2 separate regions of the Homo sapiens genome follow, and region 1 is linked to region 2. Evidence: fine-mapped expression QTL. Tissue or cell type: prefrontal cortex. Region 2 holds a variant in brackets; the other region holds the start of a gene. All regions are shown on one strand. Distances are from middle to middle.

Region 1 (10,025 bases), 22 kb before region 2:
CTGCCCACCTTGGCCTCCCAAAGTGCTGGGATTACAGGCGTGAGCCACCGCTCCTAGCCCATAAATAATTTTTTAACATGCTGTTTGGAGACATAGTAATTTTATTCAGCATCTTAGTTGGATATGAAGAACATGGAAGAAAGAGAAATCAAGTTAGTGGTGAGGAAAAGTTGTTCACATCTGATTGGGAATCCAGAATTTCAATCACCCAAACAGATGATAGAAGCTAAAAGAAGTTACAAGGTCATTGCATAGGAGGATTACTCTGATTCCTAGGAAACATGGGCTAGGATGCCTTATTTCAGTGGAGGTCATGAATTCCTGTTGCCATAGTCACTGTGAGAAAGGGCTTGGCCTTCTCACCTGTGATTCAGGTAGAATCATTCTGGAAGCATGTAATCAGTCCTCAAATTTTGTGTTCTGGTTTTGAATCTCTGACATATTCTGGTCCAAATTTTTTAACCCAGGTTCATTTGTCTCAATAGTTGGGTAGGTGCAGCTGGGCGCGGTGGCTCACACCTGTAATCCCAGCACTTTGGGAGGCCAAGGCGGGCAGATGACGAGGTCAGGAGATCGAGACCATCCTGGCTAACATGGTGAAACCCCGCCTCTACTAAAAATACAAAAAATTAGCCGGGCATGGTGGTGGGTGCCTGTAGTACCAGCAACTTGGGAGGCTGAGGCAGGAGATTGGCGTGAACCCGGAAGGCGGAGCTTGCAGTGAGCTGAGATTGTGCCACTGCACTCCAGCCTGGGTGACAGAGCAAGACTCCGCCTCAAAAAAAAAAAAAAAAGTTGGGTAGGTGATACACTTACTCTAACAAGATAAAAAAATAAGGAGAGAGATGATAAATAAATAAATCCGTGGTATTAGTACTACTGAATTAAGTTCAGGATCATCTGTTTGTGTTTTATCCGTGTTTGTTTTTTAACCCCTTTTAATGTTAAAAAGAATTCGATATACAATATTAGTCATGTGACTTTAAGTTTAAGGGTGAATAAAAACTAAGGTGACCTTGGAAGTAAGAAGGTGGCTACTCATCACTGTAGGCTTACCATCTGAGAAACCTCCATGGGAGGCCAGAATAACTTACTTCTTTTGCTTTTTTAAACTTAATTCCAGAAGACATCACATATGCATGACAAAGATAAAAGCACAAGTCTGCACCATTTCTGTGTTCTCAATAAATCTTATTGCCTAAAATATTAAGGAACGTTGAACTAAACATGTGTATTTTCTTTTAGCACATTAAAGATGCCATTCCATTGTCTTCTGGATTTATTGTTTCTGAAGTCAGCTGACAATCTTAAAAGGCAATGCATCTTTTCCCCGGCACCTTTTTTTTGTTTAATTAAATTAAATTAATTTTTTTTTTTTTGAGATGGAGTCTCAATCTGTTGCCCAGGCTGGAGTGCAATGGTGCAATCTTTGCTCACTGCAACCTGCATCTCCCAGGTTCCAGCGATTCTCCTGCCTCGGCCTTCCAAGTAGCTGGGATGACAGGCGCCCTCCACCACAGCCAGCTAAGTTTTGTATTTTTAGTAGAGACGGGGTTTCATCGTATTCGTCAAACTCATCTCGAACTCCTGACCTCAGGTGATCCACCTGCCTCAGCCTCCCAAAGTGCTGGGATTACTAGCGTGAGCCACCGTACCTGGCCCTGGCACCTTTTAAGATTTTATCTTTTTCCTTGGTTTTCAATGGTTCTACTAGAATGCACTGGGTGTGGCTGATTTTGTATTTATCCTGCTTAGGAGTCATAGAACTTACAGAATTTGTAATTTGATGTCTTTCATCAGTTTTGCGAAACTTGGACTCTTGGTTATTATCTTTTCAAATATTGTTTCTGCCCCTTTCTCTCTTTTTCTAGAAACCTGAATACCTGGTAGAACTTTTCATCATGTCCCATGTGTCTCTAATGCTTGTTTCTGTATTTTCCATTCTTTCCTTCTATGCTTCAGTTTGGATATTTTCTATTGATGTGCCTGCAGTTCACTAATCGTGTCTTTAGTTTTGTCTAACATCCAGAGTTCACAGCCTCATTTATTACACTTTTCACCTCTAGAGTTTTCATTTGATTTATTTTTATAGATTTCAATACTCAGGTGAAAATTTTCATCTTTTTTTCTGTTTTCTTGAAAATGTTCATCAGAGTTATTTTAATCAGGCAACTCCAATATCTGACTCATCTGTGGGTCTGTTTCTATTGTCTTTTTCTTTTTTTATCTAGTAACTTTTTAATGAGATGCCAAATATAGCTTCTAAAAAGTTGTAGAGGCTTCAAATGTTATCATTCTCTCAGGAGGGTTTTTCCCTTTCCTCCACAAAACCAAAGACAGGAGTGGCCAATAACCTTAATCCAATCAGGGACTGCATGGAGTGAAGGCTGGGCTGAGGTTCTGGTAGGGTTCAAGCTACCGTTGCCCTCCAGTTTCCAACTGGGAACATGGTGTAGGCTCTGCAGTAACCCACTTCCACCACCACCCTAGCAGATCTCAGACTCGAATCTTTGTTTTGCAAGTCTATCAAAAACTTCTGCTTTCAGAGGCCTTCCATTTACATTTCAGTTTCTTGCCCCATACAAGCCTTGAATTCAGCAATTGTCCTTGGAATTTCCCCCTACATCGCTGTGTTGGTTTTGTGTCCCCAGCAGTGGCCCTCTGTGGTCTCAAAGTCTAAATTCTCAGCCTCATGCTTGTATCCAGAACTGGCAAAAGCCCTCACACACCAATACAAGCCACTGCAGACATTAGCTCACCCCTTGAAGGTTCCTCATTCTCTGGAATATCAAGTCCCCCCATTCTTGCCTCAGCAGCTTTCACTGCCTTCAAACAGATGTTTTCTGACTTCGCTTTCTGGCTTTTCTAGTTGTTGTTAGTGGGAGCCTTGGTCTACTGCAAGCTGCTCCATCACACCTGAGCGTGGACATTCAATTTCCTGATGGTCTACTACGTAAATGTAAAAGTGAAACTATCTTTGTTACTCATCTCAGAGAAAGCCCTCAGAAAAAAATGTCAGAACAGTTTCTGTTGTCCTTCTACCTTGCTGCAATTGCTACTGAGCAATCAACGGGCTTTTTCCTGATGTGCTAGAAGCCAACACCATGGCACGGGCTTTTGAGAAAAGAAAGGCTTTATTGTGAGTTGACTGTCAAGGAGACATGAGGAAACCCTCAGCTCTGTCTCCTTGAGCTTGGGGCTGGGTTGGGTTTTATAAGCATAGGGTAATGACGCATGATCGGATTAGATTTTGCGATGAGGTGATGCTGGGATGCTCATCTGACTGGACCCTGCCATGGGGTGACACCAGGGCTTGATCTGATTGCATTCTGGATCTCACCATGCAGTGCCCATTTCTTAATTCAGTCCCTGCTTTGATCTGAGCACTCAGGTTCCGCCCCTGGTTGCATGCTTGGTTCACCTGGGCATCCTCAGGTTACGTGCGAAACCTTCCATCTGGGAGTCCATGCAACTGAAAAACAACTCACAACTTGGGTATATAAAAGGCGAATCAGATTGGTCTGGTGCGGTTATACAGTTATTAATATCCCTTTGTCAGAAGTCAAAATTACCACAAATTTAGATTAAAGATCTATTGGTTTTTATTGATTCATGAATCAGGATGGCATCTTCTCTGAAAATTTAGAAACGGTGCTCCAACGAGCTGGGCAGAGGAGGTGGGCTTTATAGGTAGAAAAGGGCTAAAGAAAGCAGCAACAGGGAACGAAAAACGGATTGGTCACTGCAAGGTTACAGGAGTCCCCTCTCGTCCACACACAGGTGGTGTGTCCCAAGACCCACAGTGGATGCCTGAAACCTCGGATAGTACTGCACCCCATTTTACATACACACACATATATATATACTATATATATACACACACTTCATTTTTCCTATACATACGTACATACCTACGATAAAGTTTAATTTATTAGGCACAGTAAGAGATTAACAGCAATAACTGATAATAAAATAGAAGCGTCACTGTTGAGCACAGCCTTGGGAATAGGACCTTGGAAGTAGGCAGAGCTCCCTAGGCCTTGTGGTCCCTAGTGGCCGTGGACAGCATGGGGGAGGAAATTCCCGGGAAGCAGCCTAATTTCACCCCAGGGAAGCCCCTGGTGGGCTTGTGGAGGGCGGGGTGAAAAGCCGCTGGTTTAGGGAAGGGGTCCAGCCTAGGCTGAGGAATGAGATGCGGGTTGGGACGGTCCCGACCCTTCCCCCAGCCTCTTTCAAGGATTCTGGAGAAACAAAGCCAGGATCCATTTCCTCTTGATGGCTGGCAAACTGAGCCCGGGCGGGAAGTCCTGGAAGACTGAGCCTGGGGTGGCGTTGGACACCAACTCCCAGGTCCTCGCCCCACACGGCCACATCCTCGCCCAGCCCCGCCTCCGCTTAGCTCCGCCCCGTCGCGGCTCCGCCCCGCGGTAACCACGCCCACACAACCGTATCCCCGCCCACAGCTGGCTTCGCCTTGGCCCCGCCCACAACCCTCTTTCCAAGCGGCGGCGGCGGCGGCGGCGCGAAGGCGACAGCGGCGGCGGGGGCGGGGCTGGCCTCACCCGGAATGAAAACAAACGGCGGCCGCTGCCGCATCCGGGCACTCTGCTGGTCGCGGCGGGAGTGGCGTGGCGCAGGTGAGGACACGGCGGCCGAGTGTCCTCGACCCCAGCCTCAGCAGCACTGCTTGGCGCCCCGGTTCCCGGTCCGACTGGGCACCTCTCCTGGCCAGGGGTGGAGCGGCCGCGGGGCGGGGGTGAGCAGCCATGCGTGGAGCTGGGCCGGGGCCGGGGCCGGGGCCGGGAGCGGTGGGCCGGGCTTCGGGACGCGCTGGCCGTTCGGGGCCCTTTGGTTTGCCCTGAGTTAGGCAGAGGTGTGGGGTATTTAAAAGAAAATATTGAGTGTATCGGTTTGGGGAGAGAAAGGAATAAATATGTCTATAAAAAATTAGCCAAATGCTATACTTGAATCGTAACACTCCGAGTATACCATTTGGGATTTATTTGCAATCAAAGCCAGATTTTCTTTGCTATTTAATGACAAGACACTTGATTTTCTCGAACCTTGACGACCTGATTCTATCATTCTCACCTCCTTCCCTTTTATTTTTAATCAAGAATCTTTCATTTTCCTAAGAAAAAATGAATGTGTCTTGACTAGATATAGTTGTGTTTCAACTATATATAATGTATACTTGAAAAGGTGTGGCTAAATGTAGCAATGATCGATTCATTACAAAAGTGAAAGTGAAATTTTTAAAGGATCGTTATAACGTTTCACTTTCTGCTTGGACCACGGAGTGATATTAATGAGTTTCGTCTTTTCTTAGTTACAATGTGAAACATTGTATGGCATGCATGAAACTTTTTCAGTTCTCATTTCAGTTAAAATTAAAAACTGACTTATTAAACTTGACTTAAAATATGTCGCCACTTACTCTGTTGTCTATAACTGAAGTTCCTTAAGTTTCAAGACAGTGGTTTAATTTTTTTTTAACATTAAATCTTATTCGGTGTAACCCTGGAGCTCTTGTTTGCTCCCTGGAGTGTCTGACACGCACTGGGTTTGTAACACTCCTTCGTCCTTCTGTCAAGTGGTGGCTTGGATGGCATCTTTTTAAAAATTTTTTATTTGTTTATTTTTTTAGTAGAGACGGGGTTTCACCATGTTGACCAGGCTGGTCTTGAACTCCTGACCTCAGGTGATCCACTGGCCTCGGCCTCCCAAGTGCTGGGATTACAGGTGTGAGCCACCGCGCCCGGCCTTGGATGGCATCTCTGAGTACCGCATCAGCCTTTCAAATTGCTTGGCTCCAGTAACCAGCCTGTGAAATTACTGTCCCCCAGTGGGGAGACAGTAGGGTTGCTGTGATATTTTATTCAGAATTTCTGAAGATTCATGAGTAGTATGTAAAGTAGTTTTTAAAGTTATTTGTGTTTGAAAAGCTAACGCTCTAAGTACTAATATGCTTTGCTGTGATAAGCCGTTTGTCAGTGCTTGAAAAATGGAGGATTCTCCCATGGGCCACCCAGGTTGCACACAGCAGCCTCATTGGCTGTGTTATTCCTTCCTCTCTTTTCTCCTCCCTGTCCTGATTAGCCTAATTCTTGTCCCCGCACTGACATAAAATAGATTTGAACTTTCTTTTAAAAAATATTTGTTTATGAAATACACAAGCTACCAAAGTTTTCAAAGATTTCAAAGTTGTGTGAATTGGGTTTGGGGGGATGTGGAATACTGGCCCTCAATAGAAGAAAGAAATTTATCTTGGTAATATTAACTCATATTTTTTCCACTCTCTAGAACTTGTCTTCATCATTCAGGGGCTAATAACATTTTTCTTTACTTATTGCTTGTCTGATTTGGGAAACCTTAAAGCGCTGTGCTACACCTGCCAGCTGCCTTACATCTCAGCCGCCTCACTCACCTTTGAATTGCTGTGCTAGTATGGGATGAGTAGACAGCTCCATCGCGGTACATACTTCTCTGGGAGAGAGAAGTTACATACCTGGAACAGGCAAGCAGCAAGGGACTCCATGACGGAAGTTCAGAGTCCAGTGTTGTGGGTGGAAGTTGTGCTCGTTAAGATGCTGCCTAATTTTGTGTCTTTGCCTGAGTCATGGTACAAACTCAGGGCCCTAATTTTCTCAGCTGTAAAATGATCCGATCAGTGTTAGATTTGAATAGTAGGGCCAGGCGCGGTGGCTCAGGCCTGTAATCCCAGCACTTTGGGAGGCCGAGGCGGGCGGATCACAAGGTCAGGAGATTGAGACCATCCTGGCCAACACGGTGAAACCCCATCTCTACTAAAAATACAAAAAATCAGCCGGGCGTGGTGGCGGGCGCCTGTAGTCCCAGCTACTGGGGAGGCTGAGGCAGGAGAATGGCGTGAACCCGGGAGGCGGAGCTTGCAGTGAGCCGAGATTGTACCACTGCACTCTAGCCTGGGCGACAGAGTGAGACTCCCTCTCAAAAAAAAAAAAAAAAAAAAAAAAAAAAAAAAAGTAGATGTGCTGTTAGGCTGTTAATCAGAAAATATGCAAAATTTTCCTAGTATTGTAATCTTTTTAATTTAAAAAATTCTGACATAGAAAATATTTATATATTTATTATTATTTTGAGACGGAGTCTCACTCTGTTGCCCAGGCTGGAGTGCAGTGGTGCCATCTCGGCTCACTACAACCTCTGCCTCCTGGATTCAAGCGATTCTCCTGCCTCAGTCTCCCGAGTAGCTGGGATTACAGGTACCTGCCACCACGCCCGGCTAATTGTTCATATATTTTTTTTTTTTTAGTAGAGATAGGGCTTCACCATGTTGACCAGGCTGGTCTCGAACTCCTGACCTCAGCTCCTGAACTCAGCCTCCCAAAGTGCTGGGGTTACAGGCCTGAGCCACCACACCCATCCGAAAATATTTATTATCGATAGTTTACAGTTCAAGCAAGCTTTTCTTTATATTTAACTACCAGGATGGTTGGCCTTTTGTTTTATGTTAAACTAGCCAAAGTATGAGAGAATTTACAAGCTCACGCCTGTAATCCCAGCGTTTTGAGACCAAGGTGGGTGGATCACTTGAGGTCAGGAATTCGAGACCAGCCTGGCCAACATGGCGAAACCCCGTCTCTACTAAAAATATGAAAATTAGCCGGGCGTGGTGGCGCATGCCTGTAATCCCAGTGAGTAGGGAGGCTGATGCAGGGGAATTGCTTGAACCCAGGGGGCGGAGCTTGCAGTGAGCCGAGATCGCACCACTGCACTCCAGCCTGGGCGACAGAGCGAGACTCCGTCTCAAAAAAGAAAAAAAGAAGTTCACGACTCGAGGGATTTATCTTTCTCTTATTTTCTCTTTTCTCTTAGATAAGAGAATAGCAGATTAAGAAATAGAAACATGTAATAATCCTTGCTACATATTAGCAACTTTGAAATACATATTTTATATATGTAATATATATAATTGAACATATATTTCTATATATATTTTTAGAGAAGTCTGGAGCTCATTTAAACCATAGTAATTTATATTTAATGACAGAGGAAGGGAGCTTTGCTTACCCAACAAAGCACCTTAACATGTAGGTAAGTTATTAACATTTTAAAATGCGATGTGGAGTTTTATTAATGTATTGTTTTGCTTTCAGGGATGGCACAAAAGAAATATCTTCAAGCAAAATTGACCCAGTTTTTAAGGGAAGACAGGATTCAACTTTGGAAACCTCCATATACAGATGAAAATAAAAAAGTTGGTTTGGCATTAAAGGTATTTTTCTTTTAAGACATCAATAATTAGCAGCATTATAAATCTCCTTGGTAAATAAGATTCTGAATTGTCAGGCATGACCATATAAACTTTTGGCATAACCAAAAGCATTAGTGGTGAGCGGGTACCCACTTTTTACTAGGAACTGACAACCTTATTTTTGTTCATTAATATTTTATTCACATGAGGATGTTATCTAATTTTTCAGGCATATATTTTTAATACCATCACAGGATTACATAACATTATTTATCTGGAACTCATTTTGACCCATTAGTGGAACAGTATTGGTGCCAGTAAGTAATTGCATTGTGTGTTCAAAGTGACAGTGTCTTGGCTCATTCTCGGTCCTCCTTGCTATCATCATCTGCTGTGAAACAATTGCTCCTTTTTCCCCCAGTTTTTTTGATGCTCTCACTATCAGTGTTCATTTTTCCAAAATAGGTTTTTTCTAACAGTTGTATCTCAGTTTTTCATGGCATCATCAGAAATGATATTGTATGTAAGTGATGTTTCTAGAAACTGAAGTCTGCTTGCTTTTCTAAGCAGAGAAACAGTACTCATTTTTGCCAGAAATCTATCATACTGGAATTTCCTAGCATGTACTTCTCTGCTCTCATTCAGAGTATCCTGAACATGATGTAACATTTATCAGGGACTAAGGATTGTCATGAGGCATTAAATTGCTCTGTGTTGTGACATAATGATGTGCTTGGGAGGTGACAAACTGTATTAGGGTCCTAGTTCTTCTGTTTCTTCTGTTCCAGGCAGGCCTCACTTTTTCTTTGCAACCCACCTTCTGACCTTGCTTCTGAATTTATTGTTACAGTCTCTTGGTTTAGAAACTAGGTGTGGCATAAAGGAAAAATATTTGACCTTTGTCCCTGGTTCCTGGCAGAGCCAAAACTCTTGGGATTTCCTAAGTGGTAAGCATGATAGGAGCAACCTTTGTGCTCATGAGGCTTGGTTGCCCCTAGATAGCTTCAGGATGGGGCTGGTCACCAAAAGTACCAAGCCGTGATTAGACACTTGAAACTTTCCACCCTCCCCTCCAACCTCTGGGAAGGGGAGATTGAGCTGATGACTAATACTAATGGTCAGTGATTTAATCAGGCCTGCATAATGAAACTTCCATACAAACCCCTAAGTGACAGATTTTGGACAGCTTCCAAATTGGTGAACACATCCACATGTCGGGATGTACACCCCCAACTCCATGGGACAGAGGCTTCTATGCTCAGGACCCTTCCAGACCTTGCCTTAGTACCTCTTCATGTGAATGGTTATTTGTATCCTTTGTAATGAACTATATTCATAAGTATACCATTTTCTGGAGTTCTGTGAGTTGTTCTAGCAAATCATGGAACCTGAAGGGGGTGCTTGTGTGAACCCTCGACTTTGTAGCTAAGTCAGACAAAAGTATGGGTAACCTGGGGACCAGATACTTGGTAACTGGTATCTGAAGTTAGGGCTTTTTTGTGGGCTGAGCCCTTAAACCTGTGGAGTCTAACGCTAACTCTGGGTAGTTAGTGTCAGAATTGAATCGTAGGACTTCCAGTTGGTGTCAGAATTGGCTGGTGACAGGAGGAAGAAAGAAATCCTCACTAGTTAGGTTTTCTAGAAAATTATAGAAAGTTTTTAAAAAAGTATTTATAATATATATTCTAGGTTTTAAAAAGTATGTATATAAATACAAAAATATAAAGAATGTATTTTTAAAATATGTTAAACATCGTTAACATAGGTATATTCTTCCTCTTTTCCTACG
Region 2 (12,072 bases):
GGGTTTCGCCATGTTGGCCAGACTGTTCTTGAACTCCTGACCTCAGGTGATCCACCCACCTCGGCCTCCCAAAGTGCTGGGATTACAGGCATGAGCCACTGCGCCCGGCCGGATTAAAGTTGTTTTCATAACAGAACTGTGGATCAGTGTTTGAGTTATCAGTAGATTGATGTTTGTCTTTTTTTGTGTGTGTGTGAGGCGGAGTCTCGCTCTGTCATCAGGCTAGAGTGCAGTGGCACAATCTTGGCTCACTGCAACCTCCGCCTCCCGGGTTCCAGCGATTCTCCTGCCTCAGCCTCCTGAGTAGCTGGGACTACAGTGCACGCCACCATGCCCAGCTAATTTTTGTATTTTTAGTAGAGACGGGGTTTCACCATGTTGGCCAGATGGTCTCAATCTCTTGACCTCGTGATCCGCCTGCCTCGGCCTCCCAAAGTGCTGGGATTACAGGTGTGAGCCACTGTGCCCGGCCAATGTTTGTCTTTTGAAAATGATGATTACTTGCCCACTGCTCTCTTACATTGAATGACGACATCCAGATCTTTTTGGAAAACCTTTATCACAGGGGTTCCCACCCCACAGGCTGCAGATGGGTACCAGTCCGTGGCTTGTTAGGAACTGGGCCACATAGCAGGTGAGCAGCAGGCAAGTGAGCGTCACCGCCTGAGCTCCACCTCCTGTCAGATCAGCGGCGGCATTAGAGTCTTAGGAGCATGAACCCTATTGTGAACTGGGCATGTGAGGGATCTAGGCTGTGCACTCCTGATGAGAATCTAATGCCTGATGACCTGAGGTAGAATGTTTTCACCCTGAAACCATCTGCCTTCCTCCTTGTCCATGGAAAAATTGTCTTCCATGAAAGCAGTCCCTAGTGCCAAAAGGTTGGGACTACTGCTTTATCAGACTGAATTATGCGAACATTTAAATTGAAAAATCTAATGAACTTCAAAAAATTTTGGATCACCTTTTAAAAATTGTTTTGGGGCCGGGCGCGGTGGCTCACGCCTGTAATCCCAGCACTTTGGGAGGCCGAGGTGGGTGGATCACAAGATCAGGAGATCGAGACCATCCTGGCTAACACAATGAAACCCCATCTCTACTAAAAATACAAAAAAATTAGCCAGGCGTGGTGGTGGGCGCCTGTAGTCCCAGGTACTCGGGAGGCTGAGGTGGAAGAATGGCGTGAACTCGGGAGGCAGAGGTTGCAGTGAGCCGAGATCGCGCCACTGCACTCCAGCCTGGAAGACAGAGCGAGACTCTGTCTCAAAAAAAAAATAAAATAAAAAAATTTGTTTTGGAAATACTAAAGTTGACAAACAACTTCTGAAAAAACTAGATGATTAAGAATAGAAAGTGAGGCCGGGCACGGTGGCTCATGCCTGTAATCCCAGCACTTTGGGAGGCCGAGGCGGGCAGATCACGAGGTCAGAAGATCGAGACCATCCTGGCTAACACGGTGAAACCCTGTCTCTACTAAAAATACAAAAAAAAAAATTAGCCAGGCGTGGTGGTGGGTACCTGTAGTCCCAGCTACTTGGGAGGCTGAGGCAGGAGAATGGTGTGAACCTGGGAGGTGGAGCTTGCAGTGAGTCGAGATCGCGCCACTGCACTCCAGCCTGGGTGACAGAGCGAGACTCTGTCTCAAAAAAAAAAAAAGAATAGAAAGTGAAATGAATGCCCTTTTTAAAGATACAAGCAGCCGGGCACCGTGGCTCACGCCTGTAATCCCAGCATTTTGGGAGGCCAAGGCGGCACATCACCTGAGGTCGGGAGTTTGAGACCAGCCTGGCCAACATGGTGAAACCCCATCTCTACTAAAAATACGAAATTAGCCGGGCATGGTGGCTCATGCCTGTAGTCCTAGCTGCTCGGCAGGCTGAGGCAGGAGAATCGCTTGAACCCAGGAGGCAGAGGTTGCAGTGACCCGAGATCGCACCACTGCCCTCCAGCCTGGACGACAGAATGAGACTCCGTCTCAAAAAAATAAAATAAATAAAATAAAAATGATACAAGCATTACTGGCTGCTTTTTAATATGTTTAGTCTGAATAGAATATTAGAAGTAGAATCCAGATCAGTGGATACGAAAATAAACTAATGAAAGCAAAGGGCCAAGTGCTGGTTAGGATTGTATCAGCTATAATAAATGAAGTGTTTGGCTTCAGTATTTAAATGAAATAAAGCTTTAATTAATTATATTTTTCTTAATTTTGGCTTTTAGATTGAGTTATGATCTTGTTTTCATTTTTTTTACTTTGTTTTTTAAAAAGTAATATGCTTTTAATATAATTTGCCTTATTATATTTTAAAGTGATGTTTTTTAAATTTGTATTTTTTCCTAGGCCCTTATGTTAGCTATGGGATATCATGAGAAGGGCAGAGCTTTCCTGAAAAGAAAAGAATATGGAATAGCCTTGCCATGTCTGTTGGACGCTGACAAATATTTCTGGTAGGCGCTTTTGTACTTGGTGAACACCAGCTTTAAGGAAGATGGCCCAGACTATACAGAACACCCTGCCATGCCCTTGAGACTGCAGACTTTCATCTACAACAGTGGTTAATGTAAAAGAGTAGTTATGGTGTAAACTGGTGAATTTCTTCTTCCCTTTGTATTTCTAATTGACCTTTCCTCCCTGTAAAGAAAAGAATTTTCAAGCAGGTAGGATATCCTCTCTTCTTCTGTACATGTGCTATGTTGCTAGTCGGAACTTTCCATTATAAAGTTTCCTGTCAGCTTTTCACCTAATGGTTTTGGGGTAGTATTGATGATTATTCCTCAAATCCGTTGTTTAAGAGCTGTATAATGGTGATATTATTCCTTCTGTACTTATTTTTTTTGAGACAGAGTCTCACTCTGTCACCCAGGCTGGAATGCAGTGGCATGATCTCAGCTCACTGCAACTTCCATCTCCTGGGCTCAAGTGATCCTCCCACCTCAGCCTCCTAAGTAGCTGGGATCACAGGTGCACATCACCACAGGTGCACATCACCATGCCCAGATAATTTTTTTGTATTTGTTGTAGAGATGAGGTTTCACTATGTTGCCCATACTAGTCTCAAACTCCTGGGCTCAAGTGATCCACCCACCACAGCCTCTCAAAGTGCTGGTATTACAGGTGTGAGTCGCTGTGTCGGCTTTTTTTTTTTTTTTTTTTTTTTAATTATACAGATGGGGTCTCCCTGTGTTGCTCAGGCTGATCTTGAACTCCTGGACTCATGTGATCCTCCTGCCTTGGCCTCCCAAAGTGCTGGGATTACAGGTGTGAGCCACCGCACCCAGCCTCCCTTCTGCATTTATTGCTGGAATTCTGAAAAATTTGTTTTTGCTCATCAGTTATTTTATATGTGGAGGTACAATTTGTATAGGAAAGTTAGAATAAAATACTTTGTTTCTTTCTCCTTATTTTCTTGTTTTCAGAATAAATGAGTTGCTTCACTATCACCCTCCAAAGGTGACCAAAGAGGTTTCTTTTTCTTTTCATTTTCTTAAGTGTCATTATTAACTCATGGATTTAAAACATTTGATGTGTTTCAAACTTCAGTGCTTAAATTGGTCATGCTGGCTGGCAGGCAGCCCATGTTTTTTTGACCTGACCCTGCTAGTCTTTGCAGTCTCTGATTTCTGGAATCCAAAGATACTCCAGGCTCATCTTGGGCATTTAATGCCCAGACCAGGAATCAGCAATTTCCCAAGGAGTCCTGGTTCCTCTTCATGGGAAACGGTACTAAGAGACTATGATGCAGACATATTCAACATTTGAAAAGTAGACTTGATTTTTTGAAAATGGTCAAAAGTTAACAAATTTAGTGTTAACTTCTTTTCTGTTTTGGTGCATTCCCAAGATAATACTGTATACTCCCAGAAGATGAATGCAAATATTTATAGTTTTCCATTGGTCAGTGCCTTTGGGTTCTAAGTGAACAAGTCCCAACTTTAACGTACACAAAAAAGGAATTGGGAGGGGAGGGGCCGGGCTGGGAATAGTGAGAATGAGGGCTGGTTTGTGCTTCTGGGGTCTCTGTCTCTGCCTCTTTCTGGATGTCAGTTTCATTCTCTTCTGCAAACAGTGTAGGGTAAACAGGCTTTAAATTAGGTCCTAAAAGTTTAGGTAAATTTTTCATTCCCTTCCATAGTTGTTTCTAATTTTTTATTATGGAAAATTTCAAATAGTCATAAAAATAAAAATTAGTATAATGAGCTTCCATATACACTCATAACTAAGCTTCTGCAGTTATAAAGACATGGTTGATCTTCATACATCTGTGTGAGCCTCCCTCAATCTTTTTATCCTGGACAAATCCTTGAAATAATTTTTAGGTCTCAGGGAACCATTGAATACAAATTTGGCTACATCTTCAGTTCATGATACATTAACATGTCCGGTAAGTGGTAGGTATAATAATGAAATAATAATTAACAATGTCTTTCTAAGTAGAGAAAGTTTTTTTTTTCCTGGGCATCTATTTATCCTGGGCATCTATTTATCCTGGCCAACTTGTTAGCATATTTTTGTGTGTGTGTGATTTCTCTCTTTTCATAAAGGAAATCAGCAGTAATGTAAGCCAAATAGAATGCAGATGGAGGAAACTTCAGTTTTTCCATTTCCTTTTCCATTTGACTTTTCCCCCTTACTTCTCCAAGTAAGCTAGAAGTTTTGTCACAACTTCCTACCATATGTCTTGGAGTATGGTATGTAGTATGACCAAGAATAGTTTCTTTCCCCAAATTGTATGAAACAGTGACTTCCTGGCAGTGCAGAACGGTGACCCTGAGGTAGGGAAACATGAGGGGAGCTCAGTGTCTGGAGAAGTTTCAGGTTACGGGGCAGGGAGGGCAAACCCAGGCAGAGCCTTGTGCTCCCTGGAGTTAAAGAGATGGAGCTGGGCTTGCAGGAGGCCAAGGAGGTGAGAGGAGCAAGCTGCCAGAGAGAGGGTGTCAGAGAGCTTCAGAGGAGCCCTTTTGAGTCTTCTGCTCAGTAATGATCAGCACATGTGTGTGAGGAAACCGCCCAGGGCTGGGCAAGGTACCACATGAAAGAAGCAGGGAATAATCCTCCGAGTTCATAGAAGGCCAGGAATAGTTTATGTTCCCACCAGCCAGAGTGGAGGATTTGGTAGTCACAGGGCGTCAAATAGAGTCTTCAGAAGGGTGTTGCCTCAGCACTAGGGCATAATTTGGTTTCACTTAACAAAGCTTAAAAGCTACTCCTGAACAGTACCCTTAACTTACCGTTTTCAAATAAGTGCATCCCTAACAAAACTCAATAATTTAGCAATTCAAAAATATCCAGCATCCACTGAAAAATTAGCAGGCATGCAAAGAAACAAGCAAATGTAACCTATAACAAGCAAAAAAATCAGTCAGTAGCAACAGATCCAGAAGTGACACAGAAGATAGAATTAGTAGACAAGGACATTAAAACAGTGACTGTAATCCATCTGCTGAAGAAGGCAGAGGAACAACTGAACATGTCAGATAAAGACATGGGAGACATTCAAAAGACCCACATTAGAATGTAAGAGATGAAAAGTACAACATCCAAGATGAAAAGTACATTAGGTGGGATGAACTGCAGAATAGACACTATAGAAGAGAAGATTAGTTAAATGTTACATAAGGCAATAGAAACTATCTGAAAAAACAGAGAAAAGGCTAAAAAAAAAAAAAAATGAACAGAGCATCTGCAAGCTGTGGCACAATTTCAGGCGGCCTAAAATGCATGTAATTGGAGTCCCTGGAAAGGCAGACATGTGGGACAGAAACAATACTTGAAGAAAAAAATGGCCATTAATTTTTCCCAGTTTGATGAAAACTATAAACCCCCAGATGCAATGACTTTAATGACCCCAAGTACAAGAAATATCAGAAAAAAACTACACTACAGCACACTATAATCCAATTCCCTAAAACCAGTAATAAAATTGAAAATGACTTTTTAGCTAACCTTTCTTGAAAAAAGTTAGGTAAGTTTGGCTTATTTTTTTATTTTATTTTTTCAGACGGAGTCTCACTCTGTCGCCCAGGCTGTAGTGCAGTGACGCAATCTTAGTTTACTGCAATCTCCGCCCACTGTAACCTCTGCCTCCTGGGTTCAAGCGATTCTCCTGCCTCAGCCTCTCAAGTAGCTGGGATTACAGGTGCCCACTACCACTCCCGACTAGTTTTTGTATTTTTAGTAGAGACGGGGTTTCACTATGTTGGCCAGGATGGTCTTGAACTCCTGACGTCAGGTGATCCGTCCGCCTCAGCCTCCCAAAGTGCTGGGATTACAGGTGTGAGCCACCGCGCCTGGCCTAAAATTTTTATGTTAAATAAATATTAATTTCAAGAAAGGTAAGCCTGGCCGGGCGCGGTGGCTCACGCCTGTAATCCCAACACTATGGGAGGCCGAGGCAGGCAGATCACGAGGTCAGGAGATCAGACCATCCTGGCTAACAGGGCGAAACCCCGTCTCTACTAAAAATACAAAAAATTAGCCGGGCATGGTGGCAGGCGCCTGTAGTCCCAGCTACTTGAGAGGCTGAGGCAGGAGAATGGCAGGAACCCGGGAGGCGAAGCTTGCAGTGAGCCGAGATTGCACCACTGCACTCCAGCCTGGAGGAGAGAGCGAGACTCCGTCTCAAAAACAAAAACAAAAAAAAACAAAAAAAAAA[A/C]CAAAAAAACTGTAAGACAAACATAATAAATTTCTGTTAAATAACCGACTTAAGCTCAAATGGGATTTAATTTTTGTTGTTGTTGTTTTTGAGACGGAGTCTCGCTCTGTCGCCCACGCTGGAGTGCAATGGCACGATCTCGGCTCACTGCAACCTCCGCCTCCTGGGTTCAAGCAATTCTCCCACCTCAGCCTCCCGAGTAGCTGGGATTACAGGCACCCGCCATCATGCCCCGCTAATTTTTGTAGAAATGGGGTTTCACCATGTTGGCCAGGCTGGTCTTGACCCTCTGACCTCAGGTGATCTGCCCGCCTCGGCCTCCCAAAGTGCTGGGATTACAAGCGTGAGCCACTGTGCCTGGCCAGGATTTAATTTTTTGAAAGCTAGGCTCAGTAGATTTTATTTAAATAAATATTTTACGTTTATTTTAATATCGTCAGCATGAAAATGTAACAGTGTTGAATATTAATGCTACTAAAATTGTAAACCAAAGCAATGTTAATAAAAGTACACTCTAAATGAAATTTTTTATTTTTATAATTTTTTTTTTTTCTTTAGAGACAGAGTCTCTATGTTGTTCAGGCTGGTCTCAAACTCTTGGGTTCAAGTGATTTTCCTGCCTCGGCCTCCCAAAGTGCTGAGATTACAGGTGTGAGCCACCACACCCAGCCTTCTAAATGCAATTTATACCAGGCTTTAAGAAACCACTTTGCCCCAAGCAAATGATCAGGTTTAAATATAGTTTTATATATAATAATAAGTGTTGATTTCTCAAAACTAAAAGGATGACATGTACCCCTCTAATATGAGACCTCTGCTTTGGGTTTTTTGTGTGTTTGTTCATTTTGTTGGTTTTCTTCTCTCTCTTTTTTTTTTTTTTGGCTGCACAAATAAATACTCACTCCTGGGTCAAACTTGAGATAAGTGCATATTGATTTTATTTTTAACTGACATGAGGCCATTTCTGCCCACGCTCTTGATGCTTAGTAAAACATGAACGAGCCTGTTAAAGCAACATGCAGGAGATGGAGAAGTTCGGCCACATGCCCATTGCTTTCCTGCGAGTGGCAGGAGAGTCTTCTGTCACTGGGACCAGAATGTGCCTAGAGGCAGGAAATCTCAACACGACTGTGAGATCAGACCACAATCCACAAAGCGCTGCTGTTTCTCTCAAAGGCAGGTTCTCAGGCTGAGCCGTAGATTTGGAGAAAGCACCCCTCACCCAGCTCCACATCTGTGTGTCTGCGTGCACACGTGTGTAAAACATGGTGTATGTGTTCTCAAACATTCACGAAATTAGAAATGTTGAGAGAGATGAAAATAAATATAAAAATACTGCTGTGATACATTTTTCTTGCCGCACCCACAACTGGACTGTGTACATGGGCCCTCTTTAGGAGACTACTGTTTTAAAGAGTAAATGACAAAATTAAAGTCCTTTTTTTTTTATTCCATGCATATTTTGATAGGCAGGACAGGAAGCTTGAGGCCATGTGGATTTTGTAGTTTTATACAAGAGCATTCTTATTTTTAGTAGAACACCAATGAACATAAAGAGAGAAAACCTTGTTCATATACAATGTGTGGTTCCAAATGTTCTTATTGAAGACTTGAGACCTAGATTGGCATTAGGAATTTTTAATGTAATCATAACTTAAAATTAGTCACCTTGATGGCTGTCTTTGTCAGTGCTCCTCCTGGAGCACACTGACTTCTGTTGCTGTCTTTCTTCCCTTTGCTGCGCCTGGGTTCAGCCTGCTGCCACGAATACGGAGTCAAATTTTGCCTGCACACAGGCCCTCAGAAATCAGCTGGGCCGTTAGAGCCTGGTGCTTTCTGGATTGTTTTTCCCCCAGCTTGAATATGATTGAACATGAATGCCTTGTCAGAGCCGTCATCAGCTGAGGCATTCATAGTACGTAGGGATTTTTTTGGTGTCTTTAAAGAAGTGGTGTTCAGCCCTGGCTGTACACTAGAATCAGCTGGGGAGACTCTGGCAGTATAACCACCAGGCCCAACCCCCAGAAATTTCTGTTATGTTTGGTCTGGGTGGGATCAATGATTCTTAAAGAAAGAAAGAAAGAAAGAAAGAACGTTGCTCTGGCCCAGGTGATGCTGATTTGCAGTCAGGATTGGAAGTCACAGCTTTAAAGCATGGTCTTCCCCGTATTTGCTGAGGGCCTCTGAAACAGTGGCCCTGGGTTCTGCTTCCTATCAAGGGGCTGCATGTGTGTCCTGGGGCAAGTGGTGGTAAGCTTTGATTCCTAAGCCCTGATTTCTGATTTCTCTTTCTTTCCCCCATTAGAAGGATGAGATTATAAACACAGCTCCCTTCCTAAACATTAGGATCTCTCTTTTAGAGCAGTCAGCCTTTGAATATATACCAAGAACGGGGAAAGAATTCCAGTCATTCACAAAAAGGTTTCAAATGCTAAAAATGTTTCAAATGCTGCTTGGCAGTGATGTCACTGTCCTTCTCTTTCCAGTGAGTGTTGCAGAGAGCTGCTGGACACAGTGGATAACTACGCCGTCCTCCAGCTGGATATAGTGTGGTGTTACTTCCGCCTGGAACAGCTGGAATGCCTTGATGATGCAGAAAAAAAATTAAACTTGGCCCAGAAATGCTTTAAAAATTGTTACGGAGAAAATCATCAGAGACTGGTCCACATAAAAGTATGTTCCTGGAATTCATCTTATGTCTCGTTGAGTCCATTTCTAGCATTTGTGTTTATTCCTGTTAAAGTATTTGAACTACTGCCAGAAGGTAATTTCATTTTGATAGTAGTATGCAGTATAGTCTTTTTAAACTATATATTTATAAAGTGTTCAATGTTTTACAAATCTGGCTGTCTCTCTTACTTAGCGTGTGAGCATTTAGCCCAAAGGAACATGGTTTGCTAGTCATAGAACCCCATCAGTGATCACCCTGACCAGGAGAGAGCTGCTGACTTCTTTATATCGGTAGAGTCTAATTTGCAAGATGTAAATGCAGAAAATAGACATTTCAGCAGTAATGGTTTACGTGAATGAGTCACAGCTCAAGAGCTGTGGCTCGAGTAAGGATTTTTCTGATTTCCCCAAGTCATCAAAATCCTGCTGATGCAGACTCTCTGATACCTGGTTTGGATTTCTGCATACTTCTCTGCTGACCAGAAGGGCCACTGTGCTGCATGTCTGGAGGCTGGTGCCCTGACACTGACTCTCCTGTGTGGCATGAGGAATGTTATCATACCACAGGGGATGGGGAAGAGGGGGCTTCACTTTTGCCGTCAGTCATAGTGAAGCCATGGACATTTTAATACCTATCATGTTGCCCCTCTGGAGACCAAGGGAATGACAGAGATGAGTATTATAGACCTGTAATTAGAAATAAGGCAATTTTATCCTTTTTTTCTTCAATAATTTTAGGGAAATTGTGGGAAAGAGAAGGTACTGTTTCTAAGACTCTACTTACTTCAAGGGATCCGAAACTATCACAGTGGAAATGATGTAGAGGCTTATGAGTATCTTAACAAGGTAAGAAAAGTAAAGTTGTAACCAATTTTCACCTCCTTTTAAAAAACATTCCCAGAAGTTAAGGATTTTAACTTAGTAGTTTGTGACTTGTGAGAAACATGCCTGTGCTTTCTCCGTGCACAGGAGATGTTGAACCAGAAACATATTTGTATATGTTAGAGTACAGCCAGATGCTGTAATGAGACTTCAAAAAGACAGTGACTTTAATTGGATAGAAGTTTATGGCTCACTCATCTTGCCGTCTAGAGGTGAGCCAGGCCGGAGCAGTGAGCAGCCCGCCAGCCTCAGCGAGGCGTCCTAGGTTGCTCCTGTCAGTGCCTCTTCCAGCCAGCAGAGGGGGCAAGAGAGAGTCCAGAGCAGGCCACTGGAGAGATGACCCCGCAGCTGCACCCAGCGCTGTGGCTGCATGCCATTGACTTCGACTTCACTACCTGGCTACACCCAGCTGCAAGGGAGGGTGAGAAATGCCACGTGCACAGCTGAAATTCGGGGGCTTTTGTTGCAAAAACAAAGTGGTTACCAGTCACTTCTGCAACACCCAGCCTCTTACCTCGTGTTGTGCTGTGGCTAAGTTATGTGAGTAGAGGTAGTGTTGGTCTGTTTCCATTTGTACTTGTTAATAACAGGCCTAGTTTAGAGATTTTATCCAAAATCTGATGCCTTTTAATTCACATTGGATACAATCTAATTTCTTTTAGGCTTTCACTTTGTATTAAGCTTTAAGTATTGCCGTGGTTACATGATTCTTACATTTCCCTGTCTCTAGGCACGTCAGCTCTTTAAAGAGCTATATATTGATCCATCAAAAGTGGACAATTTGTTGCAGTTGGGGTTTACTGCCCAGGAAGCCCGGCTTGGCCTGAGGGCGTGTGATGGGAACGTGGATCATGCGGCCACTCATATTACCAACCGCAGAGAGGTACCCACTTTCACATGCCCTAGCTCTCTTGGGTATGAAAGAACAAAAAAAGATAATCCCACAGGAGTGTTAATAACCAGGAACTCTTTATTACTCCAGATTGGGAAGGAAGGAGAAACTTGTCCTTTTTTTTTTCTTGAGACAGAGTCTCACTTTGTCATCCAGGCTGGAGTGCAGTGGCACGATCTTGGCTCACTGCAAGCTCCGCCTCCCGGGTTCAAGCAATTCTCGTGCCTCAGCCTCCTGAGTAGCTGGGATTACAGGTGTGTGCCACCACACCTGGCTAATTTTTGTATTTTTAGTAAAGATGGGGTTTCACCATGTTGGCCAGGCTGTTCTCAAACTCCTGACCTCAAGTGATGCGCCCACCTCAGTTTCCCAAAGTCCTGGGATTACAGGTGTGAGCCACCGCGCCTGGCCGAAACTTGTCTTTTTCAATTGGATCATTTTTCACATGCTGCAGTCTCCTTAGTTTTGTTTCCTGCTGTGGTGGCAAACGGTCCCCTCTCTCTCTTTCTTTAACACCATAGTGTATTTCTGGAAGTCATTTTAAAAACAAAATTGTTTTTTCATGAGGTCATTATTAAAGTTGGGGATTGCATCCTTGCCTAGAAACATAAGTCAAATCATAGAAACAAGTTGTATTATATTATGAAAGCACAGGTTAAAAAACTATAATCATTTGAAACAATTAAGTACATTAAAGAAAACCTTAGAATTTTGGAGTTGGAAGCATCCTTATTCTATCCAATATGTTCTGCAGTGAAAGAACTGAGGTCTAGAGGGCGGTCATGGTGGAATATTAGCAGGAGAGCCATTTTTCTTCTTGCCAAAACAAGAAGTTGGTACTAGATTATCTCACAGGTCCTTTCTAGCTGTAAACTCCAGCCATAGAAGTCTCTAGAATCTTCACATGTATGTTACCTCGTTTCCCTTTTTGCTAAACACTAGGATAATCCTGAAGGAAAAAAGCAGCCTCAGGGG

The links.
Region 1: it holds the start of NUB1, and the variant in region 2 is fine-mapped to the expression of NUB1 in prefrontal cortex (ROSMAP, PIP 0.95).

What each region holds. Positions count from the first base shown.
Region 1 is chr7:151,337,210-151,347,234 of GRCh38, forward strand. It overlaps NUB1 (negative regulator of ubiquitin like proteins 1), which reads left to right and starts at 4,603. Exons shown (of 15, transcript NM_001243351.2): 1 at 4,603-4,637; 2 at 8,139-8,257. The coding sequence starts at 8,141. RefSeq lists enhancers at 2,875-2,934, 3,065-3,154, 4,224-4,725 and silencers at 4,323-4,522, 4,693-4,872.
Region 2 is chr7:151,357,800-151,369,871 of GRCh38, forward strand. NUB1 (negative regulator of ubiquitin like proteins 1) reads left to right here. Exons shown (of 15, transcript NM_001243351.2): 8 at 2,342-2,448; 9 at 9,140-9,326; 10 at 10,062-10,169; 11 at 10,936-11,088. It also overlaps a transcript of WDR86 not described here. Among named protein-coding and RNA genes, the nearest start is that of NUB1, 22 kb to the left of the region's middle. The variant A/C (reference allele first, on the strand shown) is at 6,654.